Regions from separate parts of the Homo sapiens genome. Here regions 1, 3 and 4 are each linked to region 2. Evidence: fine-mapped expression QTL. A gene starts in region 2. Each other region holds a variant in brackets. All regions are shown on one strand. Distances are from middle to middle. Region 1 overlaps RUSC2 (RUN and SH3 domain containing 2). Region 2 holds the start of RUSC2 (RUN and SH3 domain containing 2). Region 3 has its middle 8.4 kb from the start of CIMIP2B. Region 4 overlaps RUSC2 (RUN and SH3 domain containing 2).

Evidence for each region. PIP is the estimated chance that this variant, and not a neighbour inherited with it, causes the effect.
Region 1: its variant is fine-mapped to the expression of RUSC2 in monocytes (TOPMed, PIP 0.94).
Region 3: its variant is fine-mapped to the expression of RUSC2 in monocytes (Fairfax 2014, PIP 0.95).
Region 4: its variant is fine-mapped to the expression of RUSC2 in whole blood (TOPMed, PIP above 0.99). The same link has a PIP of 0.9 or more in blood mononuclear cells.

The regions. Positions count from the first base shown.
Region 1 is chr9:35,521,531-35,529,636 of GRCh38, forward strand. The region is part of intron 1 of RUSC2 (RUN and SH3 domain containing 2); the gene reads left to right. Among named protein-coding and RNA genes, the nearest start is that of RUSC2, 35 kb to the left of the region's middle. The variant A/G (reference allele first, on the strand shown) is at 4,543.
Region 2 is chr9:35,486,454-35,494,559 of GRCh38, forward strand. It overlaps RUSC2 (RUN and SH3 domain containing 2), which reads left to right and starts at 3,658. Exons shown (of 12, transcript NM_014806.5): 1 at 3,658-3,719. It overlaps LOC105376026 (a long non-coding RNA gene), which reads right to left and starts at 5,174. Exons shown (of 2, transcript XR_929580.4): 1 at 4,978-5,174; 2 at 4,666-4,803. RefSeq lists a silencer at 3,327-3,626.
Region 3 is chr9:35,568,236-35,576,341 of GRCh38, forward strand. No RefSeq gene overlaps it. Among named protein-coding and RNA genes, the nearest start is that of CIMIP2B, 8.4 kb to the left of the region's middle. RefSeq lists an enhancer at 1,238-1,397. The variant C/CA (reference allele first, on the strand shown) is at 3,521.
Region 4 is chr9:35,546,899-35,555,004 of GRCh38, forward strand. It overlaps RUSC2 (RUN and SH3 domain containing 2), which reads left to right. Exons shown (of 12, transcript NM_014806.5): 2 at 1-1,637. Among named protein-coding and RNA genes, the nearest start is that of CIMIP2B, 13 kb to the right of the region's middle. The variant G/A (reference allele first, on the strand shown) is at 4,539.

The sequences.
Region 1 (8,106 bases), 35 kb after region 2:
GCCTTGGGCGCCTGGGGTCTTTTACCTTTTAGGCTGCTAAGCCCATTCTACTTCAGAGCCAAGCCTCTTCTGGAATGTTTGTCTTTGACTTTTGGGGGTGGACGTTTAGCTGAACTTTTCTACAACATATGTGAGAAGCCAAAAGCAAACCAAGTTCTGTGCTTCGAAAGAGGACTCTATATTAAGGAAGCCTAATAAGGCAGCAACTGGTGTGTCTGGGACAGCCCTTCAGGCTAGGCCCTTTCAACACACTCCCAGCATGCCGTCTGGCCTCACTTGGAGTCCAAAATAACATGATACGAGTTAGAAACAGTGGCCTCCTCAGCTAGCAGCAGCTACACTCTACTTGGAGGAAAGACAGATGACCTCCTGGGCATTGGCTGCTATTCCATTTATGGAATCAGACTCCTGATGCCATAGCCAGGTGCTCTCAGCATCTAAGAACTTGTTTATTCTCTCTTTACAGTTCAGTCCTAGACACCCACAGGAATCACTGTTACCACCAGTTCTGAAATCTCCAAATTCTTTGAGCCTCTCTCACACATTTCACAGAGAAGTACTTGTCCTATAGGAAACTCAGAGCCTCCATCTAATCTCATGGCAAGGGTGGAGGGTAGCTGACTTTCCAAATTCGTGTACAAAGTTTATTTCTGTTCTGGGAAGTTAGGTTTGCTATTGGTGAAGTTAATCAACATCTGTTTACAAACATTTGATTTGGGAGGCATGAAAAAAGAGAGATGTTTCTGTCAGTTAATTATTTCACTCCCCATATCTCTAACTCCCAACAAACTATGGTCAGTTCTGCCTTTGCCTAGGGTTCCCTGGAGGTGCCTCTGGGGCCCCCCACAGTAAGGAGAGGGAATTGGAGTGCATGGGGCATTAGGCCTCCTCTGCTTCAACCAGGGTAGCTGTTTTATGTATTGGGGCTGAAAAATTAAAAGCATTGCTCTAACCCTTACACCCTGAAACTTTCTTTTTGCTGTTCTGGCCTCCAGAGGCATATTGGCAATTATTTTAACAAAATTATGAGCCCCTCAAATTGGGCTATTACCCCTGAACATCCAGCATAGCTCCTTATACACAGGAAGAATACAGTAGATGCTTGTGGCTTGATTGCTTGCTTGATTAATTGGCTCACAAGATGATATTAATTGATAGCCTCAGGATAATTCTAGATCAGAGAATAGAGTACAGTATGTAATAATTTATTTTGATTTGTTATGGTTTGAGCATTTCTGACCTTTGCTACTGGAATCAATCATGCAGTCTGAGGTGAAAACTTAGCCAAAAGGAATTACCTTAACTGAGGTTGTCGCTGTTGGAGAGGATACCCAGTAAGTCAGCACAAACAAAAGTACCTTCTGTTGATTTCCAAAGATTTGTATGATTTCAATCCACCTCTGTCCCTGGTGTACTGAGGTGAAAGGTCAGCAGAGTGATTATTGGGAAGACCAGGCATAGAGGTATACTAAAATCATATAGTCCTGTCTATTGATTAGTACTGCTTACTTTTGCTAAAAATTACCTTCTTGGACAGTTCCCAAAACTACTCATTGTCTTGATTGTGGGAAATGCAAAACTTTTCTCTGCTAAGCTATACTTATTAACAACATCTAAACTGTTTATCTGCAGCCTGCATTATACATCTGCATATCTTTTGTGAGGGTGGCTTTGTTTTTAATTAGCTTATATGTTTTATAAAATTATAATGTTTTTTATAAAGCTAAATAACAGGACATAAGTGAAAAAAGCAGCCACATTCAAATAAAGTCTGCCAGTTCAGTTAATTGTAATGTACTCAATGTTAATTGCTTTGTTTTAACAAATGTACCTTGATTACGTAAGATGGTAACATTAGGGAAACTGGTTAAAAGAGGTACAGGAACTCTGAACTATCTTTGCAACTTTTTATAACTGTAAATTATTCCAAAATAAGTAGTTAGCTTTTAAAAATTCATACACAGCAATAAAGGTCTTCACAATGAAAAAAAAAGCCAAATAGTGGCTGGGCGTGGTGGCTCATGCCTATAATCCTGTCACTTTGGGAGGCTGAGGTGGCTGGATCCTTGAGCCCAGGAGTTTGAGACCAGCCTGGGCAACATGGTGAAACCTTGTCTCTACAAAAAATACAAAAATTAGCCAGGCATGGTGGTGCATGCCTGTAGTCCCAGCTACTCAGGAGGCTGAGGTGGAAGGATGGCTTGAGTCCAGGAAGTGGAGGTTGCAGTGAGCCAAGATAGGGCCACTGCATTCCAGCCTGGGCAACAGAGGGAGACTCCATCTCAAAAAATTAAAAAAAAAAAATAAAAATTTAAGCCAAATAGTGCCAAATCTGGGGCAGTCTGAACATCAAAATCAGTAATGGATTATGACCCACTGACTTTTTAAAATCCAGGGGTCCATATTTATCCTAAATCAATAAATTAAGAAAGGAAGGAAAAGGGAAATCTTTATTATGTTAGAATGCCAACTAATCAATGTAGAAGGAATAATAGAAAATTGTCATTTTTTGGCCAGGCGCAGTGGCTCATGCCTGTAATCCCAGCACTTTGGGAGGCTGAGGTGGGTGGATCACTTGAGGCCAGGAGTTTGAGACCAGCTTGGCCAACATGGTGAAACCTGTCTCTGCTAAAAATACAAAAAATTAGCTAGGCATGGGGCACATGCCTGTAATCCCAGCACCTCAGGAGGCTGTGGGAGACGGAGGTTGCAGTGAGCCAAGATAGGGCCACTGCACTCCAGCCTGGGCAACAGGGTGTGACTCTGCCTCAAAAACACAAAACAAAACAAACCTGTCATTTTTCAACCATCATAGTAAATAACTGATTCAGATGAAACTCATCAATGGATGCTAAAATGATTGGATGAAAGTTTGATGGGAACAGGTTATTTATCTAATCTAAAAGTAATCTCTCCATAGATTGCTTATTAATTAGAGGAGAAAATGATAACTTTACAATGGAGAAACCTGACAGACACTATCTTAACGAAGGACTAGTTCAAAATTAGCATCATCAATAAAGTGATAAAATGACCTCATGTGTTGGGTTTTGTCTTGTTTTGTTCTGCATTATGTGTTTCTCCCAGACTCCTATTTTATGTTTTTGTTGTACTCTTTGTTTTCTGTTGGAGGCTGCCCTCAAAAGTCTGGTGATCCCAGGCCGGGTGCAGTGGCTCACGCCTGTAATCCCAGCACTTTGGGAGGCCGAGACGGGTGGATCACAAGGTCAGGAGATCGAGACCATCCTGGGTAACACGGTGAAACCCCGTCTCTACTAAAAATACAAAAAATTAGCCGGGCGTGGTGGCGGGCACCTGTAGTCCCAGCTACTCGGGAGGCTGAGGCAGGAGAATGGCGTGAACCCGGGAGGTGGAGCTTGCAGTAAGCCAAGATCGCACCACTGCACTCCAGCCTGGGGGACAGAGCGAGACTCCATCTCAAAAAAAAAAAAAAACTCTGGTAATCCCTTGGCTACTGATATAAAAATGAGCCATTTAAAAACACTGGAGGTTCTGTGAGAGTGGAAAGATATATCAACTGGCAAACTTGTCTGGTGGGCAGGTGGAACAGGCTGGCCTTTTTTTGTGTGGGGAAACCCCCAGAGAATTTGACATTCTTTTCTCTGAGGTAGTTCAGTTTCTGCAGAGAAATAATCTACCAGGGGTAGGGTGGGATAAATAAGTCTGGCTGTTGGTATTATCCTGAAATAGAAGGAAGAAGTCTAGCAATTCTTTGGAGATTTTCACCTAACCCCTCAGTTTTCAGATTGGCCTCTCATCCTGCTTTCTTCCATGCCTTGTTTTCCAGAGTCGAATGCAGTTCCACTCAAAGTTCTCCAGAAATAAATCTCCAGTAATCCTGAGGAGCAGGAGACCAGTGGTCTCCTGACAGTGTAGGGTTGTTGGTGGGGACTGGGTGTCTAATTACTTCTTCTACAAACTTTAACCAACATCCCTATTTTTTTTTTTCCTTTAAAAAGAATTTTTGGTCGAGCACGGTGGCTCATGCCTGTAATCCCAGCACTGTGGGAGGCCGAGGCAGGCGGATCACCTGAGGCCAGGAGTTCGAGATCAGCTGGCCTACACGGCAAAACCCCGTCTCTACTAAAAATACAAAAATTAGCCTGGCGTGGAGGCACACTCCTGCAGTCGCAGCTACTCGGGAGGTTGAGGCAGGAGAATTGCTTGAACCCAGGAGGTGGAGGTTGCAGTGAGCCGAGATCGCACCACTGCACTCCAGCAAGCCTCAGCCACCTTTAAACATATTTTTTAGGCCAGGTGTGGTGGCTTCTGCCTGTAACCCCAGCATTTTGTGAGGCCTAGGTGGGCGAATTGCTTGAGCTCAGGAGTTTGAGACCAGCCTGGGCAACATGAAACCCTATCTACCAAAAAAAAGAAAAGAAATACAAAAATTAGCTGGGCGTGATGGCACGTGCCTGTAGTCCCAACTGCTTGGGTGGTGGCCATGCAGAGTGAGTTCCTAGCATTTTAACAGTGCTTTATATTTCTATAAAATGGTCAGTTTACAGAGCACTTTCATGT[A/G]CTGTTTTGAATAGACCACTGTTCAGATCTATAGTAGGGGGCATATGTTTCCCCTAAGCCTTCAACTCCCCATAAAGTAGCCTGGTCCAGGCACAGGAAGACTCAGTAACCAATGTTTATATTCATGCCTGCTTTATTTTGAGCACCCTGGATCTCTCTATTGCTTATGAAAGCTGCCCAGACCACTACTGAGTTCTGGAAGATGCTGGGATTGAGGAGTGGGGAAAGGTATCCATATCCAGTCTTTTCATGTTTCTCCAAGGTTACCGTCCTATTTTGGTCAGAATTGTGTAATCTCCTTTGTGGGGGTTTTGGATATTAACCAACATCTTATCACTTGATAATAGTATCACACTTACTGGGTATTTACTGTATGTCAGGCACAATTTAAGTGCTTGATAGTATTAATTCACTTAATGTTGGTGGTATTTTCATCACCATTCTACAGGAAATGGGGGCAGGGAAAGGCAAGATAACTGGCCTAGGATTACACAACACTCAAACAGATATTACCTCATCTTGTTAACTATTAAATGTATTGCATTCAGATTTTACTTGGTGTGGGGTACAGTGGCTCATGCCTGTAATTCCAGAGCTTTAGGAAGCTAAGGCAGGAAGATCACTTGAGCCCAGGAGTTCAAGGTTGCAGTGAGCTGGGATGGTGCCACTGCAGCCTGGGCAAAAGAGAGAGACCCTGTCTCAAAACAAAATAAAAGCCACACAAAAAATTTTTGCTGATGTACAGTTTAGATACTTGTTACTGATATTCTTTATCCTGAGATAGTTTTACTTCCTGAATCCATGGATTCTTGTTTTCTAATAACTTCTGAAATATTATCTGTCATTATCTCTTCAAATATTACCTCTCCTTGATTCTCTACCAAAGATTCTGATTATAAGTATATTAAACATTTTCATTCTATCTTATCTCTTAACTTCTCATTCACTTTTCTGTTCCTTTGTTTTTTTGTGCTGTTTCTATGTGATTTCTTCAGATCGATCTTCCAGTTCACTAATTTCTCACTTCAACTTTGTCTTTTCTGCTGTTAAATTTGTCCTTTCGTTGTTTTTTTTTTCTTTTTTGAGACAAGGTCTCACTGTGTCACCCAGGCTGGAGTGCAGTAGTGCTTTCATGGCTCACTTTAGCCTCAATCTCCCAGGCTCAAGCAGTCCTCTAACTTCAGCCTTCTAAGTAGCTGGGACTACAGGTGTGCACCACCACATTCTGCTTGCTTGCTTGCTTGCTTGCATATGTATGTACATGTGTATGTATCTAGTGACAGAGTCTTGCTATGGTGCCCAGGCTCTTACCAAATTCCTGGCCTCAAGCAATCCTCCTGCCTCAGCCTCCCAAAGTGCTGGGATTACAGGTGTAAGTCACTGCACCTGGCTGAGTTTTTATTTTAATAATTATGTTTCTAACTTCTGAACATATTTCGTTCTTTTTCAGATCTGCCTGGTTATTTCTAATAATTCATTGCCACTCGCTTACCTTTGAGATTTATCTTTTATTTTAAAACATTTCACACATAGCTGATTTATATTCTGTAACTGACATTTTTGGTATCTGAAGTTCTTGCAATCTAAATACATTATTTATTGTTTTCTCTGTTATTTGCTCATGGCATCTTTGTGATCATTAATTATAAACTAATTTTTCTTGATCTTTAATTTTGAGAATTTTGTTGACTTAGATTGGGAAATATTTTCCCCCAGAGAAGATTCATATCTGCTTCTACCAAAAGCTGTGGAACACCACCTACCATGGATCATGATGAACTTCCTTCAGGCTTCCCTGTTTCTGCTTAATGCAGAACTCTCAGGTTTAGCTCCCTCACCTTCCCAGTGGCTCAAGTATGGTCATCTTGGCTGCAGTGATGCTCTGGGAATTGGCTGACAAGGAACCCTGGTTCTCCCCCTTGCTTACTGCATAGCTCATGAATTTTTCCCTTTTTGGGGAATTGGGTAGAGTAGTCACAGAGATGTCTCCTATATACTGAGAGACCTGAAATGCTTTTAAAAGTATATATTGCCCAGGCACTGTGGCTCATGCCTATAATCCCAGCGCTTTGGAAGGCTGAGGCAGGAGGATTCCTTGAGGCCGGAAGTTCAAGATCAGCCTGGGCAACATAGCAAGATGCCATCTCTACAAAAAATTTAAACATTAGCCAGGCATGGTGGCACATGCTTGTAGTCCCACCTACTTGTGGGGGCTGAGGCAGGAGAATTGCTTGAGCCCAACTCAAGGTTGCAGCGGGCTATGATTGGGCCACTGCACTCCAGCCTGGGTGACAGAGTGAGACCCTATTCCTTTAAAAAAAAAAAAGTATATATTATACAGGATCTCATATTTTTCATATTTTGCAGTGAAAGGGGCCCTGTAATGTCTTGATTACCATAATGTGGGAAGCAGAATTCTCTTTATGCGATTTGATACCTTTTTTTTTTTTTTGAGATGGAGTTTCGCTCTGTCACCCAGGCTGGAGTGCAGTGACGCTATCATAGCTCACTGGAGCCCAAAAGTCCTGGGTTCAAGTCAGCCTCCTACCTTAGCCTCCCAAGTAGCTAGGACCATAGGCATGTGCCACCACATCCAACTAATTTTTAAATTTTTGTGTTGACAGTGTCTCGCTTTATTGCCCAGGCTGGTCTTGAACTTCTAGGCTCAAGCAGTCTTCTCTCCTCAGTCTCTCAAAGCACTGATATTTTACTTTTTAAATTAGCTTAAAAGGGCCGGGCATGGTGTCTCACACCTTTAATCCCAGCAGTTGGGGAGACCAAAGTGGGAGGCTCTCTTGAGGCCAGGAATTCAAGACAGACCTGACCAACATAATGAGACCCCCATCTTTAAAAAAATTTTTAAAAAAAAATTGTAAAAAGTTTAAAAAAGAAAACAAAAAATAAATAAATTAGCTTAAAAGCCTTTTTCGATACCATTGAATATACCTTGTATACCCAATATTAATGGTTCTATTATATTCCGTTACATGGGTAGCTCACTAGCCATTTTTCCATTGGATATTTAGAATATTCTCAATTTTTCTCTGTTGCAAGTAATATTGCATTGAACATCATTGGGGAAATATGAGGCAAATCAAGGAGGGTAGAGATATAAAGAAAATGCATAACTGTTATTCTGGGGCAAGAGTTGGCAAACTCAGATGCCTTATAGGAGCCAGACAAATAATGCAAATAAGTAAAATGAACCAGTGAAGCTGCCATGAGGAGTGCTGGGAACACGGCAAACTGAAGGTCACGTGCTCATCTAATGAAGGGAACCACTTCTCAGCTCCAGCTGATTGTTAGTCATGTAGGAATGAGGGCCTAGTGTAGCCAGTTCTTTTGGTTTTTTTTCAAGCAAAACAAGCTGGAAATCTAGATTTTTTTCTAGAAATCCCCAAAATGTTTATGGTGGCATTTTTACTATGCAAAGCACATAAAACCTATTGACATACTAGATGTGACAGTCAGTCTGTCACTTTGCAGCCTTTGCTAATGTTTATGATGGCATTTTTACTGTGCAAGCCACGTAAACCTATTGACACACTAGATGTGACAGTCAGG
Region 2 (8,106 bases):
ACCAAAAATGCAAAAAATATCTTTAGTCCCAGCTACTCTGGAGGCTGAGGTGGGAGGATCGCTGAAGCCCGGAAGTCGAGGCTGCAGTGAGCCATGATCGCACCACTGCACTCCAGCCTGGGTAACAGAGAACCTGTCTCAAAAAATAAAAAATAAAAATACTTGCATAAGGCTCATTATTTTACCTTTTTGAAAGTTATTCTTTAACACAAACAACAGGAAGTAACCCACACTCGCTGAAGCCAAAAATGAGATTCCTATGAATGGATAGAAGGATGCATCATGATCCTGGGGAAGGAATCCTGCTGGGCCTCAGAAAGAAGTGGAACCAGCTGCTGGAAGGTCCCAAGAACCTAGGGAGCAGTCTTTTTGTGTCTAGACTTGCTTCTCTGTGTGCAACTGATTGATCTTCTTTCTCAGCAAACTGGTTTTCAATGCTGCTCAGGCCAAATGGGCAAGTAGAAGATGACTACTGCATAGCTCCCAAATTACCCTTAAGTCCAATTTAAGTCTGAGCAGAGATGTAGCTCTTTGTCTCCCAATTCCAAATTCTTAGAGAAGTAATTCTAATTGGCCTGGTTTGGCTTAATTCCCCAACCCAGACTATTTAACTGGGGGATCACACTGTGCAAACATGCAATTCCTCATTGGTTCCCCACTGGCAATGCTAGCTCTCTCCATGTCACCCTTATTTAAGCCCTTAGAACTTTATTTCTAACATTCATATTTGATCTTGTCATTCCTGCCTCTGCAATAAAGCCCTTCAGTATCTCTCCCAACTCCTTAGTAGTCATAGGCGTTTCATCACCAAACCCTGACCAGCTCTCCTCAGCTGTCTCCGTTGCCTCCCACACTTCTCAATCACATTGGTCATTTTGCCCCTCAGTTCTTTTGCACATGCCAATTCTCTCTTTACCTCCCACTCATTCTTCAAAATTCAGCTCACACCACTTCTGTGAAGCCTGAAGACAAGCTACATATCCTGACATTTATCTGCTTCCTTGACTGTGACCCCAGTCTCTAACTCTTTCAGTGAGTATGGAACCTAGAACAGAGTCTTCTATTTTTTTTTTTGAGACAGAGTCTTGCTCTGTTGCCCAGGCTGGAGTGCAATGGCGCAATCTCAGCTCACTGCAACCTCCGCCTCCCAGGTTCAAGTGATTCTCCTTCCTCAGCCTCCCGAGTAGCTGGGATTACAGGCATGCGCCACCACACCCGGCTGATTTTTGTATTTTGAGTAGAGACGGGGTTTTACCATGCTAGTGGTCTCAAACTCCTGACCTCAGGTGATCCGCCCGCCTCAGCCTCCCAAAGTGCTGGGATTACAGGCGTGAGCCACCGCGTCTAGCCTAAGAGTCTTCTCAATGGGTGATATGGTTTTGTTAGTGGTGGAAGAGGTCTGAGTTACCCCAAGTTACCTGCAGCCTATCCTTATGGGTCTGTAGCAACTTTAGTCCTTGCTTCATCAGAAGAAAGAATTCGACTGTGGGGCAGAAAGCAGAAAAAGAGACCAAGGCAAGTTCCAGAGTAGGAATGGAAGTTTATTTAAAAAGGCCTTAGAACAGGAAAGAAAGGAAGGTGCGCTTGGAAGAAACCCAAGCGGGCACGTGAAGGTTAAAGAGAGAAGGTCAAGTGCCTAACCAAGATCCTAGGACTTTTACAGGCTGGCCTCTTTCCCATGATTCTTCCCTTAGAGTGGGCTTCCCGAATGCGCAGTGCTTTCCTTCCCGTTTTCCGGTGGAGGGTGCCCCCAGGAGATCATACGTCACCATTTTTGTCTCTTAACACGCATGCCCAGAAAGTTGCTTCTCCCTGAGGCCTGCATTCAATTAGCATTTTGATGTTAACATGTGTGGACCATCAGGAAATGGCCTCTCCCTGGCCCAGCCGAATTATCCTTTTTAAAGAAGCAATGAGGTAATTATGGAACTGTCACTGGTAGAGGGTCTGACTGCAAGTTGTCCAGGTTCTTGGCGTTTTGAACAAAGAATTGGACAAAACGCCCAGCAAAGCAAAGAAAGAATGAAGGAACAAAAGAAGGAAAGCAGGGATGTATTGAAAACGAAAGCACACTCCACAGTGTGGGAGCAGCCGGAGCAGCGGCTCAAGGGCCAGGAAACAGAATCTTCTTGGGTCCAAATACCCCCTAGAAGTTACCCGCCACTTCATGCTCACCTCATGTAAATGAATTCGTAGCCTGCAATCAGTCTGATTGGTTGCAGAAAGCAGCCAAGCAGAGGCTGAAGTGAAGTTACAAAGGTCGCACACCTGTGCAAACATCTGATTGGTTGCAAGAAGCAACCAATCAGAGGCTAGGGTGAAGTTACAAAGTTATACTTCTATGCAAAGTTAGACTCGGCTGCAGTCAGTCTAATTGGTTGCAGATAGCCAATTTCCCATCTGCTGGGCAGAAAAGTTGGGTGGGGGGTTTGTTACTTAGGTGTGGAAAGTTAGGGTTTTCCTTTCAATTTAGTTCCAGGAAGTTGGCATGAACCAGTCTTAGGTTCCCTGCCTCCAGTCCCTATTCTCCTGCCTCAGAACCATCACCCAACATCCCTAGTGGGTAGCAGGGGAGAACCCTCTCCTGCCCCGCTCATGCCTAACTACCTGTAACAGTTTGGCTGTGTCCCCACCCAAAATCTCATCTTGAATTGTAATTCCCATAATCCCCCTGTGTCAAGGGCGGGAACAGGTGGAGGTAATTGGATGATGGGGCTGGTTTCCCCTGCGCCCTTCTCGTGACAGTGAGTGAGTCCCACAAGATCTGATGATTTTATAAGCGTCTGGCATTTCCCTTGCCTGCACTCACTCTGTCCTGCCACCCTGCGAAAAGGATGGCTACTTCTTTGCCTTTTGCCATGATTATAAGCTTCCTGAGGCCTCGCCAACAATGCGGAACTGTGAGTCAGACCTCTTTCCTTCATAGTATTTCTTCATAGCAGTGTCAGAACGGACTAATACAGTGGGTTTCCCATAACATTTGCAGGACTGCCTGCCCCATCCCCCTCTGGCTGTAAACAGCAGGAGTCACACACAGGCATCTTCCATGTCCCCCACACATCCGGCCCTGAAGGGCAGGGGGCGCATGGGTTCTACGTTTCATCAGGGGTTCCGAACCCTGGCTATGCACTGGAGGCCAACCCCACCTCACCCCACCCCACTCCACCCCAGTGGTTCTGAGTCGGTCCAGTGTGAGGTCAGCCCTCCTTCTGTTGTTTGGTTAGTTTCCACACTAGGTTCTACTGGGAAGCCAGCGTTGAGAACCGCCGCCTCAGGCGAAGCTGGGACTCACACCCACCGGCCCTGGAGGCCCGCGGAAGGTTTCCCTGGGTTCCAGCACCCGGGAGCCGCGCGTCGCCAGGCACCACCCCGCGGGGGCGGGCGCGGGCCGCAGAAGATTGGGCCACGGCGGAAGCCTCTCCGCTCCCTTAGCGGGAAAGCTCTGCGCGTGACTCGGCTGCGCCCATCGCTGCGGGAGCCGGGGAGGGGGCGAGCACCTTAGGCCGGGCGGACCGAACCAACGCGCCGCCCGGAGGGGCGGCCTGAGGGCAACCCAGATCGGACCATCGCGCCACGCCGACAGGGGCCGGCCTTTCCAACCCGCCCGGAGGGAGGGGCCGCCGGCGCCTCTAGCCTGCAACGCGACCCCTGGAGGGCGAGACACGCCGCCGCCGCCGCCGCCGCCGGCGCGGAAGGACGAGGCTGAGGCGAGAAACGAGGTAGGAACGCCTCTCCGGAGGCGGGCAGGGTCCCACAGACCCACTGCCCCGCGTTCCAAGGTCTCCCTTAGGGGAGGGCCTGTCTTCCCACCTATGTGCCTTCAGCGCCTGCCCTTCCCTTCAGCCCTTCCCCCTCGGCTGCACCCGCCCTCTGCGTCCGCCCCGACCCCCTGGGCAGACCTCGTCCCCAGCCCTTCTGACCCTTGGCCTTCTCCTGACCCTTCAGCTCTGCGTCCACCGGACCTTCAAACACCCAGCACCCACCGTCCCTTTGGGCGCCACCCCAGATGCATCCCCAACCGTCTCCTCAAACTGCCCCCTTGGGGACACCCTCCCCCCACAAAACGACTCGCGCCCAGTAGTCACCTTGGTACCCCAAGTCCCTGTGACGGCTTTGGGGAAGCGTGGCCGCCCGGCACCCAGGCCGGCGACTGCAGCGGGGGCCTCCCTACTGCCAGTTCCCGGCCGGGTCCTCTGCTCCCTCCACCCTTTTAGCCCCTGCCTCCCTTTATTATCCGCCCGGCGCCGGCGTTGCTTCAGTCTCTGTCTCTCTGTCATCCAGTTTTACCTGGAGAAAACCTTTGGCTTGGCAGTAACCGTCCCCTACTACTGCACTCACTTGCCGCGAAGGGCACGGTGATCCTGTTGCCCACAGTTGGCTGTGGCCCTCCAGGCCGGCCCTGCGGACACGGGGAACTGTCCTGGGGGCAAGGACGGTACACTACTCATCTTTGTATCCCCGGTCCCCAGCACGGTGCCTGGCACATGGTAGTGTTGCTGGTGGAGGGTCTTCACTACCAGTTGTCCTTTGCGTTTTGAACAAGTAATTGAGCAGCGGAGGAATGAAACGCAGGAACAAGTAGATCTGAGTCAGGCAAGGATTACCACTATGTGAACAGTGTCCGTGATAAAGAACACAGGCCTTAAAAAAAAAAAAAAGGCGGAATTTACAAAGGACAAAGGGCCTGAAACCTGTTTTTATTTATTCCTAGGTGGGTGACCTGAGCAGATTTAGTTTCCTGGGGGTTTGGGTTCCACGCGGAAGCAGGTGGTATCGCTGAGGGATGAAACAATGGCTGGAAAGCTGTAGGAGTTGATAAGGTAGAAAGTAGTTACCTAATTAGTAGTGGCATTATTGTAACTGGGGCTCAAAGTATTAGCAAATAAAAGTAGTGACTGGATTTTCTTAGCCGGCTCCTTAGATATTAAGCAGTGGTGGATGGCTTAATGGAAGGAAGAGCAGATCCAAACAGTATACCTGGTATTCTGTTAGTTATGCCCGTCCTGCTGTATGGCCAGCCACTGTTTCTCTTCTGTTTTGAGCCAGGTTAGGATCCCTCTGATTTCTGTGCTGGTATTTAAGATTCCTTTTTGAAGCCACAGTTGCCTTAACTGGAGGCTGGACATGTTCTCATTCATCCATTGCTAGTTTTGATGTATCCTTTTCCGCTTTCTGTCTCCCACCCTCTTACATGTCTTTATAAAGTCTTGGATCAGGCCAGGCACAGTGGCTCAGCCTGTAATCCCGGCACTTTGGGAGGCCCAGGTGGGCGGATCACTAGAGGTCAGAAGTTCAAGATCAGCCTGGCCAACATGGTGAAACCCCATCTCTACTAAAAATACAAAAATTACCGGGCATGGTGGTGTGCACATGTAGTCCCAGCAACTCAGGAGGCTGAAGTCCCAGCAACTCAGGAGGCTGAGGCAGGAGAACCCCTTGAACCTGGGAGGCAGATGTTGCAGTGAGCTGAGATCATGCCACTGCACTCCAGCCTGGGTGACAGAGCAATGCTCTGTCTCAAAATAAAGCCTTGGATCATAGAAACCCAGTGTGGGGAGGGGCTCCTGATCTGGATGGATTAAGCAATACAATTTTTTTTTAACAGTATCTTTTTAATGGCCTTTTCTACTTTTTCCTGTCTAGGCTTCCTGTTAAGACCTCAGTTACCCCAGAACACCCTGGGTTATTTTTCTCCTCACCTCCAATACTTCAGTGTTGCCAGATAAAACGCAGAGTGCCCAGTTAAATTTGAATTTCAAATAAACAACAGGGAGTCCTGTATTTTTACTTGCTAAATCTGGCAAGTTCATGGGAGGGCTTATGTGTTCTATTTTTCTCTCTGGGCTTATCTGCAAATTTAGGATAATAACTCACCCTTTTCTTCCTGTTACTCATACACAATGACTATGCACCCTGCTAAAAGTCACTTGACTGAAGAGATGGTTCACTTCATGTTAGGGTAAGGGCAGGCTATCTAGAAATGGTCTTGATTGATCAGTGTTGAAGTTACCCAGGAAAAAAAAAAAACACCCATTCAGACATTGGCATTTAATATAATTTTTGTCAAATGAGTCCGTCATACGAAACGAGAGCATCATTTTGAGTAGCCAGATGTCAACATTGCTCTGATAGAGCTAGGTGATGGGGTAGAAGGGAATCCTAACAACAACAAAATAACTCAGCAGAACCTGTGCTGTACCATATTTACTCTTTATGGTGGTAATATATATATATATAACATAGAATTTACCATTGTAATAATTCTTAAGTGGCATTAAATATATTCACATTATTGTACAACCATTACTGATAACAATCTCCAGAACTTTTTTTCATCTTCCCAGACTGAAACTCTGTACCAGTAAGATGCTAACTCCCCATTTCTCCCTACTCCGCCCCAGGCAACCACCATTCTACTTTCTATCTTTGAATTTGACTACTGGGGGTACCTCATATAAGTGGAATCATGCACTATTTGTCTCTTTGTGACTGGTTTATTTCGGTTAGCATAATGCCTTTTTTTGTTTTTTGGGTTTTTTTTTAACTTTTATTTTAGGTTCAGGGGTACATATGAGGGTTTGTTATATAGATAAACTCATTTCACAGGGGTTTGTTGTACAGATTATTTCATCACCCAGGTATTAAACCTGGTACCCAATAGTTATCTTTTCTGCTCCTCTCCCTCCTTCTACCCTCAAGAAGACCCTGGTGTCTGCTGTTTGTTTCTTTGTGTTTATACATTCCCATCATTTAGCTCTCACTTATAAGTGAGAACATGCAGTATTTGGTTTTCTGTTTCTGTTAGTTTGCTAAGGATAATAGCCTCCAGCTCCATCTATGTTTCTGCAAAAGACATGATCTCATTCTTTTTTATGGCTGCATAGTATTCCATGGTGTATATATACCACATTTTCTTTATCTGGTCTGTCATTGATGGGTATTTAGGTTGATTCCGTGGCTTTGCTATTGTAAATAGTGCTGCAGTTGGTTAGCATAATGTCTAAAGTTCATCCACTTTATAGCCTGTATCAGAACTTCCCTCCTTTTATTTTTATTTATTTATTTTTTGAAACAGAGTCTCCCTCCATCAACCAGGCTAGAGTGCAGTGGCACGATCTTGGCTCACTGCAACTTTTGCCTCCCAGTTCAGGTGATTCACATGCCTCAGCCTCCTGAGTAGCTGGAATTACAGGTGCACGCCACCACGCCCGGCTAATTTTTGTATTGTTAGTAGAGAGGGGGTTTCACCACGTTGGCCAGGCTGGTCTCGAACTTCTGACCTCAAGTGATCCACTAGCCTCAGCCTCCCAAAGTGCTGGGATTACAGGTGTGAGCCACTGCACCTGGCCAGAATTTCACTCCTTTTAAAGGCTGAATAATATTCCATTGTATGTATACACTATATTCTGTTTATTCATCTTTTGATGGATACTTTGGTTGCATCTATCTTTTGGCTATTATGAAAAATGCTGATGTGAACATGAGTGTACAGATATGTTTGAGTCCCTGCTTTTAGTTCTTGTGGGTATATACCCAGAAGTGGTGTTGCTGGATTGTATGGTAATTTTATGTTTATGTTTATTTATTTATTTATTTATTTGAGGAACCACTGTTTTCCACAGTGGCTATAGCATTTTACATTCTCATCAGCAATGCATAAGGGCTCCAATTTTTCCACATCCTTGGCAACACTTGTTTTCTTTTTTTTTTTTTAAATAACAACCATCCTAGGCTGGGCATGGTGGCTCACGCCTGTAATCCCAGCACTTTGGGAGGCCGAGGCGGGCGGATCACCTAAGGTCAGGAGTTCAAGACCAGCCTGGCCAACATGGTAAAACTCCATCTCTACTGAAAATACAAAAATTAGCCAGGCATGGTGGCGCACACCTATAATCCCTGAGGCAGGAGGCTGAGGCAGGAGAATGGCTTGAACCGGGGAGGCTGAGGTTGCAGTGAGCTGAGCTCATGCCCCTGCACTCCAGCTTGAGTGACAGAGCAAAACTCCATCTCAAAATAATAATAGTAATATAACCATCCTAAGCAGTGTGAAGTGATATCTCATGATTTTGATTCATATTTCTCTAATGAAAAGATATCGAGCATTTT
Region 3 (8,106 bases), 82 kb after region 2:
TCAAAAATTCCAAGAAGCACAATAAACCACATTTCCTCACACAAACACAATTTTAAAATTTTAAAATAGGCTAAACAAACAACCAACCTAACACTTAGACATTTAAAAATACTCCCTTGAGCTGGGCGTGGTGGTGCATTCCTGTAATCCCAGCTGCTTGGGAAGCTGAGGCGGGAGGATGGCTTGAGCCCAGAAATTTGAAGCTGTAGGGCGGCGCTATGATCACATCTGTGAATAGCCACTGCACTCCAGCCCAGGCAACACAGTGAGACCCTGTCTCTTAAAGAAATAAAAATTAAAATTAAAAAAAAAACAAAAACACCTTAACCCTTGGGGCAAAGAAAAAATTCCAGTTATACACAATTATTTATAAATAAATGAGAATTCAATCAAAGATGAATTCAGAGGCAACTTTTAGCCTCAAACACATACTGGCCTCATGATTAAGAATATAGACTTGATCCTGCTGGGTGTGGTGGCTCACACCTGTAATCCCAGCACTTTGGGAAGCCGAGGCAGGTGGATCACAAGGTCAGATCAAGACCGTCCTGGCTAACACGGTGAAACTCCGTCTCTACTAAAAATATAAAAAATTAGCTGGGCGTGGTGGCAGGCGCCTGTAGTCCCAGTTACTGGGGAGGCTGAGGCAGGAGAATGGCGTGAACCAGGGAGGTGGAGCTTGTAGTGAGCTGAGATCGCACCACTGCACTCCAGCCTGGGCGACAGAGAGAGATTCTGTCTCAAAAAATTAAAAAAAAAAAAAAAAAAAATATATATATATATATAGGCTTGATCCTGGCTCCATCACTTATGAGCTGTACAACCTTGGGCAAGTTAGCAAACCTCTCTGTATCTCTTTTTCCCTCCTCTATAAAATGAAAATGCTAATAGTGTAAGGATTAACTTAAACGGTACAATAAAGCACAATAATAAATAAACTATCAATATCATTACTAACAAATGTTCTAGTGGGAGCTGCTCTAAGAAACAATTGCCTACCTTGGCTGGTCCAAGTAAAAGAAGAAAGCCAAGAGTGGAAGGAAGAGAGGATATCTTAAGAATGGATAGATTTCCTGAGTATCCAAGGAAGGAACTGTATACTGTACAGACTGCCATATAGCTAGGCCTCGTGAAACGGGAATTGAGAACGTGAAAGTGAACAGGAGCTGAGGCAGCTATTTTCACTCTCACCCTGGGGCCAGGTGCTTCTCTCTGCACATCTGCTCAACTCCGTCTGTCTCTATCTGTCTCTCTCGCTCCCTTTTCCAAATGGACTTGTCACTATTAGTTTCTACTCCCTGATAACTCTGGTATGCATGTGTTCATCAGGAAATTTCTACACCCCACATCCCCCATCATCTCTACAACAGTGATTGCTTAAGCAGAGTGTGCTGCAGAATTACCCAGAGTTTCGATATCAAACCTATAGAAAAGTTGCAAGACAAATGTCACTTTTACCTGACTTACCAGTTGTTCACATTTTGCAACTCAGAAGTATAGTCTCCCATGCGTCCCAGAAGGAAAGAGAAACAGACACAGGTGAGCATCACCATCCTGACCTCACTCATCTCTCTCGGCCTGGCCTCACTGCAGATGCAGAGGCCACCACCTCAACCAGGCAGCTGGGGAGGGAGGAGGGCATGTGTGCAGACCATGATGGCTTCAGCAGGACAGGCTGCAGACAGACTAGCCAGGCAAATGAGTCTAAAAGCAACTAGCCAGCTAACTAAATTAACTAGCTAATAACTAAGCAGTCAATTCAAAAGGCTAGAAAAAGAAGAACGTCATAAAGCTAACAAATATAGGAGAATGAAACTGATAGAAACCAATAAATCAGAAAACAGAAAAACAATTGAACTGTTATAAGAGTTGTTTAAAACAACAACAAAACAAGCAAACTGCTGGCAAAGTTAGCCAAGAGAAAGACTATACAACACCCCTAACAGATTGAGGAAGTGGCTAAAAACAGGCACATAGGAATTTGTGGGGGGTTTTTTTGTTTTGTTTTTGTTTTTGAGATGGAGTCTCGCTCTGTCGCCAGGCTGGAGTGCAGTGGCGCAATCTCGGCTCACTGCAACCTCCGCCTCCGGGGTTCAAGCAATTCTCCTGCCTCAGCCTCCCAAGTAGCTAGAATTACAGGTATGCGCCACCACGCCCAGCTAATTTTTGTATTTTTAGTAGAGACAGGGTTTCACTATGTTGGCCAGGATGGTCTTGATCTCTTGACTTCGTGATCCACCTGCTTCGGCCTCCCAAAGTGCTGGGATTACAGGCATGAGCCACCGCGCCCAGCCAGGAATTTGTGTTTTAACTACAAAAGAATACTAGTGAAACTCTATATAAATAAACTAGAAAATGTCAATAAGAATGAATATTGTCTTGGAAAATATAAATCAAAATCAACTCAAAATGATGGAACATCTGAATAAAATAACAATAGAAAGAATTGGGCCAGGTGCAGTGACTCACATCTGTAATCCCAGCATTTTCGGAGGCCAAGGTTCAGGATTGCTTGAGCCCAGGAGTTCTAGACCAGCCTGGGCAACATAGTAAGACTTCATCTCTACAAAAAATTTTTAAAAAATCAGCCAGGCATGGTGGCGTGTAGTCCTAGCTACTCAGGATGCTGAGGTGAGAAAATCACCTCGGCCCAGGAAGCTGAGGCTGCAGTGAGCCATGATTGCATCACTGCACTCCAGCCTGGGTGACGGAAACCCTGTCTCAAAAAGAAAAAGAAAGAATGGAAAAAGTGGTCAAGTAGATGCCCCTACCAAAAGACCCACACGCCACTTGATTTACAAAATTAGCAAAAACTTAATTCAAGACAACAAATTCAATACCTAACAAACCTCACACAAGTTCTACAGATAAAAAATGCCACCAAATAAAACATCAAACTAGCAACAGCAAAAAAGCAGGATGCTTACTATCACTGTCATCTTTCCTCCAATTCATAGCAGATGCCAATAAAGGATCCCAGTCCCCTTTCTGAGATCTTCCAAGACTCTGCAAGACAGCATGTTTTGAGTGATTTCTGCCAAAGCTTCAGATGAGGGGAGTGGTGGCAAATGTTCTGCTCTTTATCACCCCTGAATTGACTGACAGCTCAGTAAGGGCAGAAACCATGTCTGTCTATCTTGTTCATGATTATATCCTCAGCATCAAGCACAAGTGTCTGGCACATAGTATGAACTACACAAGTCTAGTAATATTGTAAAAGAATAATATACATTAAGACTAGTAGAGCCAAGTGTGGTAGCTCATGCCCGTAATCCCAGCATTTTGGGAGGCCAAGGCAGGAGGATCACTTGAGCCCAGGAATTTGAGATCAGCCTGGGCAACACAGTGAGACCTTGTCTCTACTAAAAATAAAAAATTAGCCAGATGTGGTGGTACATTCCTGCAGTCCCAGCTACTCAGGAGGCTGAGGTGGGAGGATTGCTTGAGCCCAGGAGGTCAAAGCTGCAGTGAGCCATGATTGTGCTACTGCATTCCAGTCTGGGAAACAGAGAGAGACCCT[C/CA]AAAAAAAAAAAAAAAAAAAGAGACTAGTAGGATTTATTCCAGAACTACCACAGTGATTAAACTAGAAAATTTCTTAGTGCAATTAACATATGATAAACCAAAGGATATAAAAGCCATTTGATCACCCTGGCAGATATTGGAAAGGTATTTTATAAAACTAAATATCTACTTGTGATTCTCCTTAAAAAGGACTTTTAGTAAACCAGGAATATAAACATGATAAAGAATATTTGAAATGAATAGCCAATATCAAACTATATCCAGAAGAAACATCAGAGAGAGGACTGGGAAATAAATCTTATCTGTTGTACCAAATCAAATCAGCTATAGTCACTTATGGGAATGTTACTGGGGAGCTTCTGAAACAGGGCCATAGCTTAGCAGGAAAAGGTACTAAGAAGGATTAACTATGTTTGTTTGCCATGGGCATAAGATGAATGCCAGCATGTCGGATTCATAGTCCTTCACTTTATAAAAGTCAGAACCAAGACAAGAATGCTCATTATCACCTTTACTATTCAAAGTTACTATAGACAATGCATAAAACAAAAATAATTAATAAGAACCATAAATATTAGAAAGAAAGAAAAGAATCATCATCGGCCTAACTACAAAATCCTGAGAAGCAACTGAAGAACAATGAGAACTAATAAGAGTACTGTAAGATGCTTATTACCTGAAAAATATATTCAAATATCAATAGCTTTATTAGGCAGCATTACCAGTTAGATGACACACTGGAGGACTTCCACTTCCAGCATTATGGCAGATAGTTCAGAAGATTATCTGCAGCAATCAACTATATATTACATAGGTCATGTGAGGTGTTGCAGCTCTCACAAAGAAAGGAGTCTTCAAGAACATACCTTCCCCTCAAAAATAACACAAAACAAAAACAATAAAACGTAAGGACAGGTGTGGTGGCTCATGCCTGTAATCCCAGCAGTGTGGGAGGCCAAGGCAGGCGGAACATTTGAGGTCAGGAGTTCAAGACCAGCCTGGCCAACATGGTGAAACTCTATCTCTACTAAAAATGCAAAAATTAGCTAGGGGTGGTGGCACATGTCTGTAATCTCAGCTACTGGGGAGGCTGAGGCAGGAGAATTGCATGAACCTGGGAGGTGGAAGTTGCAGTGAGCCGAGACCATGCCACTGCACTCCAGCCTGGGTGACAGAGTGAGACACTGTCTCAAAGGAAAAAAAAAAAAAAAAGGTCGAACTCATAGAAGCAGAGCAGAATGGCCATTACCAGAAGCTATGGAGAGACAGAAAGGGGGAGGTATTCATCAAAGGGTGCAAAGTTTTGGTTATACAAGAGGAGTAGGTCCTAGACATCTACTGCACAACATTGTGCTTAGAGCCTATAGTTAATAATATTGTATTATTATAAAATTTTTTTTAAATTATACTGAAAAATGTATATTTAAAAATTTGCTAACAGGGTAGATTTTTTTTCCATTATGCTCTTCTAAGATACTAATAAACCATAAGATGGTAGATCTTATATTAAGTGTTCTTATCACTAAATAAATTGGGCAGGAGGAAACTTTTGGAGATGATGGATATGTTTACGGCATTGACTATAGCGCTGGTTTCATGGTTCTATACTTACCTCCAAGTTCAAGCTGTATACACTAAATATGTATTGTAAGTCCTCAGTATTGTCAATAGGTTCTTGGAAATTGCAACTTTCAGAGAAATGATGTGAAATGATGGGTACGAGAGTTTACCGTACATGAGGAGAGCATGCAAACTCCATATAGACAGTGGTCCTGGCCTGAATCAACCTTTTTTTCCCCTGGCCAGGTGCAACGGCTCACGCCTGTAATCCCCATACTTTACGAGGCTGAGGTGGAAGGATCACTTGAGCCCAGGGGTTCAAGACCAGCCTAGGCAAGACGGGGAGACCCCCCTCTCTACAAAAATAAAAAATAAAATTTAAAAAATTAATTTAATTAAAATTAATTATCTGGACTAATTAGCCAGGCAAGGTGGTACACACCTGTAGTCCCAGCTACTCAGGAGGCTGAGGTGGGAGGACCGTTTGAGCCCAGGAGTTTGAGGCTGTAAGTGAGCTATGATCACACCGCCACACTGCAGTCTGGGTGACAGAGACCCGGTCTCTATAAAAATAAAAAGTTTAAAAAATGATAAAAATAAAATATTTTTTCATATCAATGTTATAAAGTAACAACAGTGAGTGAAACATCATTTGAGAACCTGCTGTACAACTTTCTGTATGTCAATAAAGTGATTTTTTAAAAAGGGAAATCATCAGAGGCCAAAAACTAGGCAAAGGATAGAAGGCACTTTTGGCTTAATGGCATTGGCCAAGCCACACAAACTTGGAGGTTCATTTTCACAGGTTCATGAAGTACTGAGAAAAGGAGATAAAACTCAGTGACCACCCAAGATGGAGAGTCTAACAGAAAATTTTTCCTGCATAAAACTGGCATGCATCAAGTTATGTCCCTTTAGTCTTTTTTTTCTTTTTCTTTGAGATGGAGTCTCATTCGGTCACCCAGGCTGGAGGGCAGTGGTGCAATCTCGGCTCACTGCAACCTCCGCCTCCTGGGTTCAAGCAATTCTCATGCTTCAGCCACCTCAGTAGCTGGGATTACAGGCGCCGCCACTACACCCAGCTAATTTTTGTATTTACTTTAGTAGAGACTAACTTTCACCATGTTGGCCAGGCTGGTCTCAAACTCCTGACCTCAAGTGACCCGCCTGTCTTGGCCTCCCAAAGTGCTGGGATTATACACATGAGTCACCGCACCCCACCTTGCCCCTAGAAATCCATCTGCCCCCCAAATCCTTCCTCAGGGGACTACAAAGAAAATTGCCTATCTCAAAACTTGGTACCAAGTGAAAAAGGGGGACATATTTCCCCTAAAACTTCATAACTACAAGCTGGCTCATGCGTGATTTGCAGATGGAATTCACTCTACCTGAGTAGTCTGAAATACTATCAAGATAATGAGGTAGGAGGTGGGACTGGACTCCAGAGGCAGGGCTCAGCAGCGGACCAAATTGAGGACTAGCTAAAACAGGGATGGGGCAGAAGTGGTTTTCCATATGACATGGCCACCAGTGTGCTATGTCAGTTTACCATTGCCATGACAACACCCAGAAGTTACCACCCCTTTCCACAGCAATGACCCAATGAACTGGAAGTTACCACCCTTTACATACAGAAATTACTGCATAGTCCACCCCTTAATTTGCATGTAGTTAAAAGTGGGTATAAATCTGAATGCAGCACTGCCTCTGAGCTGCTGCTCTGAGCATACAGCCTATAGGACAGCCCTGCTCCACAAGGACCAGTACCTCTGCAGGTTTATTAGGATCTTGGAAGAGCATAATGGGAAAAGAAAGATGTACTCTGTTACCAAATTTTTTAAGTATACACTGCTGCTTCAATAAAAGTTGCTGTCTAACACCACTGGCTCATCCTTGGATTTTCTTTCCTGGGCAAAGCTAAGAACCTCCCAAGGCTAAGCCCCAATTTGGGGGCTCACCTGCCCTCCCATCATCTGGTGATCAATGAAAGGAAAAAGATAATGAGCAAGAGGCAGCAAGTCAGTGGAGACAGTGGCAGTCAGCAGACAGGTGAGATGGTGGGACAGCAGAGACGGTGGCAATCAGCGGTCAGTGGAGAGGTGACGACTATGAGAGACAGCAACTGGGAAGACAGTGAGAGACTGACAAGACCAAGCAGAGACAGCGAGAGACCGCAAAGCGGTCTGTGATCAAGGCTGCAAGAGCTATAACACTGAGGCTGTAACAATAAAGAGCTGCTAACACTAACCAAAGGCTCTTTTCAGAGCCATCATTTTCCCTGGCAGGCGGCAGGGCCAAGCAGACACACTAATGGCCATAATGTCACTGCCTCATGTGAGCTCTGACCATGGCAGGCCAGTGGGTTACCAGTCCCTATGCTTGCCCCCTGTGTGACAGCTGAGCCCACCCAAGCTGGGGGGTCCTGGAGGGACCTTCACCAGGGTCCCACATGAAAGACTGGCTGGTGCCATTTGGCTCCTATGGATGGGTAAGTGTCCCTTCTTCCCCTACTCCATAACATCTAGTGAGCTGGGGAATAAAAAGCCTTCGGCTAAGTGGTTAAAAGTCCCCCACAGTATGAGTGCCCTGAGGCACATCCTTGTGACCTCTCCCCCCTGTGCTTTCTTCTCTGACTCCATATTATTGTTCCACCAATCATTTTATTTTTATTTCGAGTCCAAAAATTTACGTTTCATTTGAAGCGTTATGTTTCCTTTTGACTTTCTGTTAACTGTGTTTGAGCAATTGTTTAAGGCTGGATGTTTAGTTGTGCTCTGTTGCGTCAACTCTGGGACACCAGAGTCACATTGTTCTATGACCCCAACTTGGTCTTGGGTTCACTGTTGGCCACTCCCTTGGTGCCCCCAGGTTTTTGGCATTTGGTGAGGGGACCCTCATTGGCTGAAACAGGCACTCTGGGTTTCCAGCATTGGTATGATAGGCCACTCCCAGATGCTCTGGGGTTTTCAGGATTGACATTCCCTCTAGGATTATAGGTTATAGCCCCACCCACTACGGGAATATT
Region 4 (8,106 bases), 60 kb after region 2:
CACCCAGCAGTCCTTCCACCTGCATGGCACTGGCCAGCCCAACTTTCATCTATCCTCTTTCCAGCTGCCACCATCTGGCCCCAGAGTGGGCAGGCCATGGGGGACAACACGCAGTCGGGCTGGAGTGGTGGAAGGGCAGGAACAGGAGCCAGTGATGACCTTGGATACTCAGCAGTGCGGCACCAGCCACTGCTGCCGGCCAGAGCTGGAAGCAGAGACTATGGAGCTGGATGAGTGTGGGGGACCTGGTGGGAGTGGCAGTGGGGGTGGAGCCAGCGATACCTCTGGCTTTTCCTTTGACCAGGAATGGAAGCTCAGTTCAGATGAATCCCCAAGGAACCCTGGATGCTCCGGCTCAGGGGACCAGCACTGCCGCTGCAGTAGCACATCCAGTCAGTCCGAGGCAGCTGACCAGTCCATGGGCTATGTGAGCGACTCCTCCTGCAACAGTTCAGATGGTGTGCTGGTCACCTTCAGCACCCTCTACAACAAGATGCATGGCACCCCCCGTGCCAATCTCAACTCTGCCCCACAGTCCTGCAGCGACTCTTCCTTCTGCAGCCACTCAGACCCTGGCGCCTTCTATCTGGATCTGCAGCCCTCCCCATTTGAGTCTAAGATGTCTTATGAGTCCCATCACCCTGAAAGTGGAGGAAGGGAAGGGGGCTATGGTTGCCCTCATGCCTCTTCTCCTGAGCTTGATGCCAACTGCAACTCCTACCGCCCACACTGTGAGCCGTGCCCAGCAGTGGCTGACCTCACAGCCTGCTTCCAAAGCCAGGCCCGTCTTGTTGTGGCCACACAAAATTACTATAAACTTGTCACCTGTGACCTATCTTCCCAATCATCCCCAAGCCCTGCTGGCTCTTCCATCACTAGCTGCTCTGAGGAACACACCAAGATAAGTCCCCCACCAGGCCCTGGCCCAGACCCAGGCCCCAGCCAGCCCTCTGAGTATTACCTATTCCAGAAGCCAGAAGTCCAGCCAGAGGAACAAGAAGCAGTGAGTTCCTCCACCCAAGCAGCAGCTGCTGTGGGCCCCACTGTGCTTGAGGGACAAGTATACACGAATACTTCACCCCCCAACCTCAGCACTGGACGTCAGCGCTCCCGCAGCTATGATCGCAGCCTGCAGCGCAGCCCTCCTGTCCGCCTGGGCTCGCTGGAACGTATGTTGAGTTGCCCAGTGCGCTTGAGTGAGGGCCCTGCAGCCATGGCCGGGCCTGGCTCCCCACCCAGGAGGGTCACCTCCTTTGCCGAGCTGGCCAAGGGCCGGAAGAAAACTGGAGGCTCTGGCTCGCCCCCACTTCGTGTGAGTGTTGGGGACTCCTCCCAGGAGTTCTCACCCATCCAAGAAGCCCAGCAAGATCGGGGGGCCCCACTGGATGAGGGCACTTGCTGTAGCCATAGCCTGCCACCCATGCCTTTGGGGCCAGGCATGGACCTACTTGGCCCAGACCCAAGTCCACCCTGGTCCACCCAGGTCTGTCAGGGACCCCACTCCAGTGAGATGCCTCCTGCTGGCCTCAGAGCTACTGGGCAAGGCCCCCTGGCTCAGCTGATGGATCCAGGGCCTGCTCTCCCAGGGAGCCCAGCCAACAGCCATACCCAGAGGGATGCAAGAGCTAGAGCTGACGGTAAGGAGCCTAAGGGTTAGCAAATATGTGGCTATTCACCAGCAGGATATGCATGGCCACCTCCCTGACAGGTCCCTGCCAGACCACCCCATCCATACCACTAGAGGTTCCACATCCTAGATCTGTTATCCTTCTAGGCCAGGGCAGGACCCACAGCTACAGTGGAATAGGCTCACTGGAGAAAGACAGAGGACTCAAAAATACACTGAGCAGACTGGGTGCAGTGACTCACACCTGTGATCCCAGCCCTTTGGGAGGCCAAGCCAGGCGAATCACTTGAGGTCAGGAGTTTGAGACCAGCCTGGCCAACATAATGAAACCCCAGCTCTACTAAAATAAAAAATAAACTAGCCAGGAGTGGTAGCACCCACCTGTAATCCCAGCTACTCAGGGGGCTGAGGCAGGAGAATTGCTTGAACCCAGGAGGTGGAGGTTGCACTGAGCTGAGATCATACCACTGCACTCCAGCCTGGGCAGACAGAGTGAGATTCTGTCTCAAAAAAAAAAAATAAATAAATACACTGAGGAGATAAAATCAGCAGGACTTAGAGGCTGACATATTGGGAAATGAAGGATTCAGAAGACTGATTCTGAACCTGGATGATGGGAAAGATGAGGCCATGGATAGGGGCTGTAATCACAGGAGATTTCCTGGAAGAAAAGTTCAGGTTCAGACCTTTAGGAGTTTGCAGTGCCTAAGGGGCAACCAAGGGATATGTCTAACAACAACAACACACACACACTGGGCGTCAGTGAAGTTTTTTTTTTTTTCTTTTTGAGACGGAGTCTTGCTCTTTCGCCCAGGCTGGAGTGCAGTGGCCTCCCTAGGCCAGCTCTTTCCCTATTTATTTTGTTACATTTTAAATAAATATTTTATACCAGTGTGTTAAGGTGGTGCTAGTGACAGAGAGATGAGAGGGATGACTCTGTTTTCAAGGATTCCAGCTAAGGACAGAAACAGAAAACGTAGTTGATCATTAAAATGCAGAGATGGCAGTGTTCCGTACTGGCCAGTGAAAGGGGTATGTAAATCAGACTGAAACGTCAGGGAGGAACTGCTAATGCAGTTACATTTAAGCCCAATCTAGAAAGATGATTAGGATTGGGCTTTGTGACGACTTGTAAGAAGAATGTTCTAGGCTCACAGGATTGTCTGTACAAAACCACAAAGGCACAGAATAGCTTGACCCTTTCTAGGAACTGCATATAATTTGGTGAAGCCATAGTGGAACACAGGTGGAACCACTGAAAAATTTTAGAGAAATGGCTTTTGGCATTTGTTTGTTTTTGTTTGGTTTGGTTTTTCTGTCTGCTTAATTATATGTTTTGATTTGCATTTAGAAAGATCACTGGTTGGTTGTTCCTTCAGGCCTTGTTTAAAAAAAAAGTAATTGGGCTGGGCACAGTGGCTTACACCTGTAATCCCAGCACTTTGGGAGGCCAAGGCGGGCGGATCACCTCAGGTCAGGTTTTCAAGACCAGCCTGGCCAACATGGTAAAACCCCATCTCTACTAATAATACAAAAATTAGCTAGGCATGGTGGCGCATGCCTGTAATCCCAGCTACTCTGGAGGCTGAGGCAGGAGAATCACTTGAATCTGGGATGGAGATTGCAGTGAGCCGAGATCACGCCACTGCACTCCAGCCTGGGCAACAAGAGCGAAACTCCACCTCAAAAAAAAAAAAAAAGTAATTGGATCACTGGTTGTTTGGGTAGAAGATGGACTGGAAGGGGTGTCTTCCTGAAGTCAGGAGAAAGCACTGTGTAGATTGGAAAGTCATTGGAATAAAAGTGGTAGCTGGCACTTGCTGGGCGTGGTGACTCATACCTATAGTCCCAGCACTTTAGGAGACTGAGGCAGGCAGATCACCTGAGTTCGGGAGTTCAAGACCAGCCTGGCCAACATGGTGAAACCCCATCTCTACTAAAAATACAAAAATTAGCCGGGTGTGGTGGTGCACGCCTGTAATCCCAGCGACATGGAAGGCCGAGGCAGGAGAATCGCTTGAACCCAGGAGACAGAGGTTGCAGTGAGCCTAGATCATGCCACTGCACTCCAGCTTGGGAAACAGAGTGAGACTCTGTCTCAAAAATAAAAAACAAAAGTGGTAGCTGAAGCTATGTGTGTGGCTGAGAGAGGATCCAGGGAGAATGTGTTGAGTTATAAAGGGAAGAAGGGGATACTGTGACTTAAGGGATGAGCAGCACCCTCAAAAGAGACAGAAGAATTAGGACAATAGAAGAAAAACCAGGAGAGGCCGGGCATGGTGGCTCATGCCTGTAATCCTAGCACTTCGGGAGGCCGAGGTGCGCGGGTCACCTGAGGTCAGGAGTTCACCAGCCTGACCAACATGGTGAAACCCCATCTCTACTAAAAATACAAAAATTAGGTGTGGTGGCGGGTGCCTGTAGTTCCAGCTACATGGGAGGCTGAGGCAGGAGAATCGCTTGAACCTGGGAGGCAGAGGTTGCAGTGAGCCAAGATTATGCCACTGCACTCCAGTCTGGGTGACAAAGTGAGAGTCCGTCTCAAAAAAAAAGAAAAACCAGGAGAGAGTGAAGTCACAGGAACCAAAGGAGGAGAAAGTTTAAAAAAAGTTTGAACCAAAAGAGTTCTAAAGAGAAATCACCTAAGATAATGAAGAATCCTGAAGGCAACATTCAGGAGTAGTGAGAGTGGAAGCCAGATCTCAGAGGGTTTAGAAGGAAAGGGAGGTAAAGCAGGGATAGCAGAGGCTCACAGCTGTGCTGTAGCCTTAGGTTGGGTCTGTTGGCTTCACAAAAGAAAATGTTTTAAAACCATAAATAATATCTGTGCTGTCAGGGAGATCACAGTCCATCAGAAGACTTCATGTTCCTAACATACACTGAAGAGCTGTCCTTGGGGTGGGCATGGGAG[G/A]GAGATCTCTAGGGAAGGGGCAGGATCAGAAACAGCAAGGATTGACTGGGTCCTTTGAACCCACTCCCTTAGACTGCAGTGTCTGTCTGCTGGGTGCATCTCGTGGGATACTATGACTGGCATTCTGAGGGCAAGAAATATCCTGGTCAGAGATGTGTTTTCTCTATCAGATTAAGACATATCAACATGCTGCTCTGTTCCATAAGTCTCCAGTCTTCTCTTGATTCTGTACAGCTTTTTTCTAAATCAAAAATGAATGACAATTCATCAAGCTTTGAATGACAAAAGAAGGGACAGGTTGATCCAATCTAGGAATGACAGTATAGGAAGCTGAGAAGGTCGGCTGGGCATGGTGGCTCACACCTATAATCCCAGCACTTTGGGAGGCTGAGGCAGGAGGATCACTTGAAGCCAGGGGTTTGAGACCAGCCTGGGCAATATAGTGAGACCCTGTGTCTACAGAAAAAAAAATTTAAAAACAGCTGGGAGTGATGGCACATGCCTGTAGTCCTAGCTACTCGGGAGGCTGAGGCAGGAGGATCGCCTGAGCCCAGGAGTTTGAGGCACAGTGAGCTATGATTGCACCACTGCATCCCAGCCTGGGCAAAAAGTGAGATCCTGTCTCTAAAAAAAATTAAAGTAGGCCAGGTGTGGTGGCTCATGCCTGTAATCCCAGCACTTTGGGAGGCTGAGGTGGGGAAATCATTTGAGGCCAGGAGTTCGAGACCAGCCTGGCCAACATGGAGAAACCCCATCTCTACTAAAAATACAAAAATTAGCTAGGCATGGTGGCGCACGCCTGTAGTCCCATCTACCCGGGAGGCTGAGGCACAATAATCGCTTGAACCTGGAAGGCGGAAGTTGCAGTAAGCTGAGATCACGCCACTGCACTCCAGCATGGGTGACAAAGTGAGACTCTGTCTCAGAAAAAAGTAAATTAAAAAATAAAAATAAAAAAGGCAGCTGAGACGGCTCTTTGAGATACTGAGCAGCAGAATCAAGATTTAAAGGGATCTTACTGAATCTTGAAAGAACAAAACTAATAAAGCAGAGACCAATGTGAAGTTTGATATGTAACCTGCACTTGAGTTGATTTGGGATATTTGATTGCAAACTCAGATTGAGTCAGCAGTTGGTAGAGCTTCCAAAAAGTTAAGATGACTGGATTCATTCATAGACTCCAGAAAGAAAGAGTGGATAGTCTCTCACTCCTCCGAACCAGTGAGTGCTCAGTGGTATTCCATTGAGTTCTGGGTACCACATCTTAAGAAGGAACTGAGGAACTGGGGGACTGGGGCTATTTAACCTAGAGAAAAACTGACTCGGGTGAATACGGTCTCTGTCTCTGGTTTTCTTAATGAATGTCACATAGAAAAGTGAGAAAACTTATTCTGTGTATTCCCTGAGGGTAGAACTAAGACCCATTCCCCACAGGGGCCCCCTTCTTACCTGATCTTATTCCTCTGCCTCAGTCTGTATCCTGGGAACTTAGCAGAGAGGAGTTTTAAAAGGGTAGGAATAAGCAGTCTAATTCAGACATACTTTGTATAGGGGGTATAATAATGCTGTGGTTGGGATGACCTAATCCGATAGCCAGAGTCAGCTCAGCCTTGAAAACTGATACTTAAATAGGCGGAAAGGAAGGACACATTCCTGATGGGAAAAGCAGTGGGCTTCATGACAGGGATGGACTGGGAAGAGTAGGGTCAGTGGGGGCAGGTGTGGAAGTCTGAAGGGAGAGCAGCCTAGCTCGTAGCAGGTGTGGGCAACTAGCTCACTGAGAAGATTAGACTTTATTCTGGGAGATAAAATTTGTATCTCAGAAGCTAGTTGGTGTATGTAAGAAGCTTCTGGTTGTAGTGAGACTGGCTTGAATCAAGAGTGACCGTGGAGATTCCCTCATTTAACAGATGGTTTTTCACTCCATACTGTGTGCCAGCCTCTGTTCCAGGCATTATGGATCCAGCAGTGAACAATATAAAATCCCCACTTTTCTGGAGCTCTTAGGAGCAGTAATGGACAATAAACACATTAAAAGGACAACTTTTAATTGCTGGAAAGTTCAACAATGCTGAAAAGAAAATGAAACAGGGTAATGGGATAGAGAGCAACTTGCCAGAGGGGCTGACGTAGTCAGAGAAGGTCTTATTGAGGGGGTGATATTTGAGCTGATGCCTGAATGGTGAGAAGATTCAGACAGAAAGAAAAGCAGGTGCAAAAGGCCCGGAGATGTTCATGCATCTGGTGTGTTTAAGGACGGGGAAGTGTGGCTGGAGCACAGTGGGCCAGGGAGAATGCAGAGTCTGTGTAAGCAGTGACTGGGTATAGCAGGAGGGTGGAGCTTGAAAGTGTCCCCTGGGAGTGATTCAGAAGCACCTCCCTAATGGGATTGTGGTCCCCATCCCCTCTGACTCTTTGATGTAAATAAGATGAGGGATAGGAAAACCTGGCCTGATACAATTTCACATGTAGTACAATGTGGTAAAAAGAACAGTGGCTCTGAAATCAGACTCTGGGTTAGGCAGAATTCTAGCTCTGCCACTTCCTAGTTGTTTGACCTTGAGCAAGTGCTTTAATCTGTCTACATTTCACATTTCCTAATATGTCAAGTAAGAGAACTAATTCCCGCCTCGCAGAGCTACTGAGCCCCACTGCTGGTGAGCTTTCACCAGGGCTTTAGGCCGGGTGCGTGCTTATAGCGCCATCTTACGTTTATTCGGAGATCTACAGTGTTTTGTTGGAAGTGCAGTCCATCCACTGTCCCACTCCAGTGTCCTGGAGTTTTGTGTTTAGTTCTGAGCACCACGTTTTGAAGGACATTGACCTGAAGACTGCCTGAAAGAACAGGAGAGGCCCAGCCTTGGGGAACATACCTCCGTTCAGGGGGAGCAAATGTGGACTCTGAGGTTCCAATGCCAGGATCGTGAAAAGAGTGGGAGTGGGGGTAGATACAGATAACAGGTAGGCTGCAAGTAAAGAAATATCTTACTATGGTTCGATATGCTCAGGAATGAAATGTGCTGGCATGATTGGAGATGGGATAATGAGCAAAAGCTTGAAGTCAGTAACATCTGAAACATTTTCATCACTGAAAATGTGTGTGACTGTGACTCCAAGACTTAGAAACAAAGAAAATGGTTCTGCCATTGATAGAAATGGAAGTCATCGGAAAAAAGGAGAAAGGTGATGGATAAGCGGTTATAGCACATTTTAAGTGAAAGCAGAACTATAAAGCAGAATGATCTGGAGATGAAGAGGAAGGTCCAGGCTAAAGCTGTGGGTTTGGGAGTCATCCCGTAGAAGTCTGAACTCAAAACTTCTCAAGAAATAAAGTGTAAGGTGAGATGCAAGAGTTGAGCCTTAAGATACACTCACCTTTGGAGTCAAGAAAATGAAGAGGGACTGAACAGCAGAGAGGTACAAGACAGTCCAGCACCATAAAAGCAATAGGAAGCGTTTTACAAAAGAGGGGAGCAGTGTCCCATTCCACGAACTTCTACCCCATTCAATTCCTGCCAGCCAGGTCCCTGCCCCTCTCCCCTCTCCCATCTCTGCTTCTGGGTTTTCT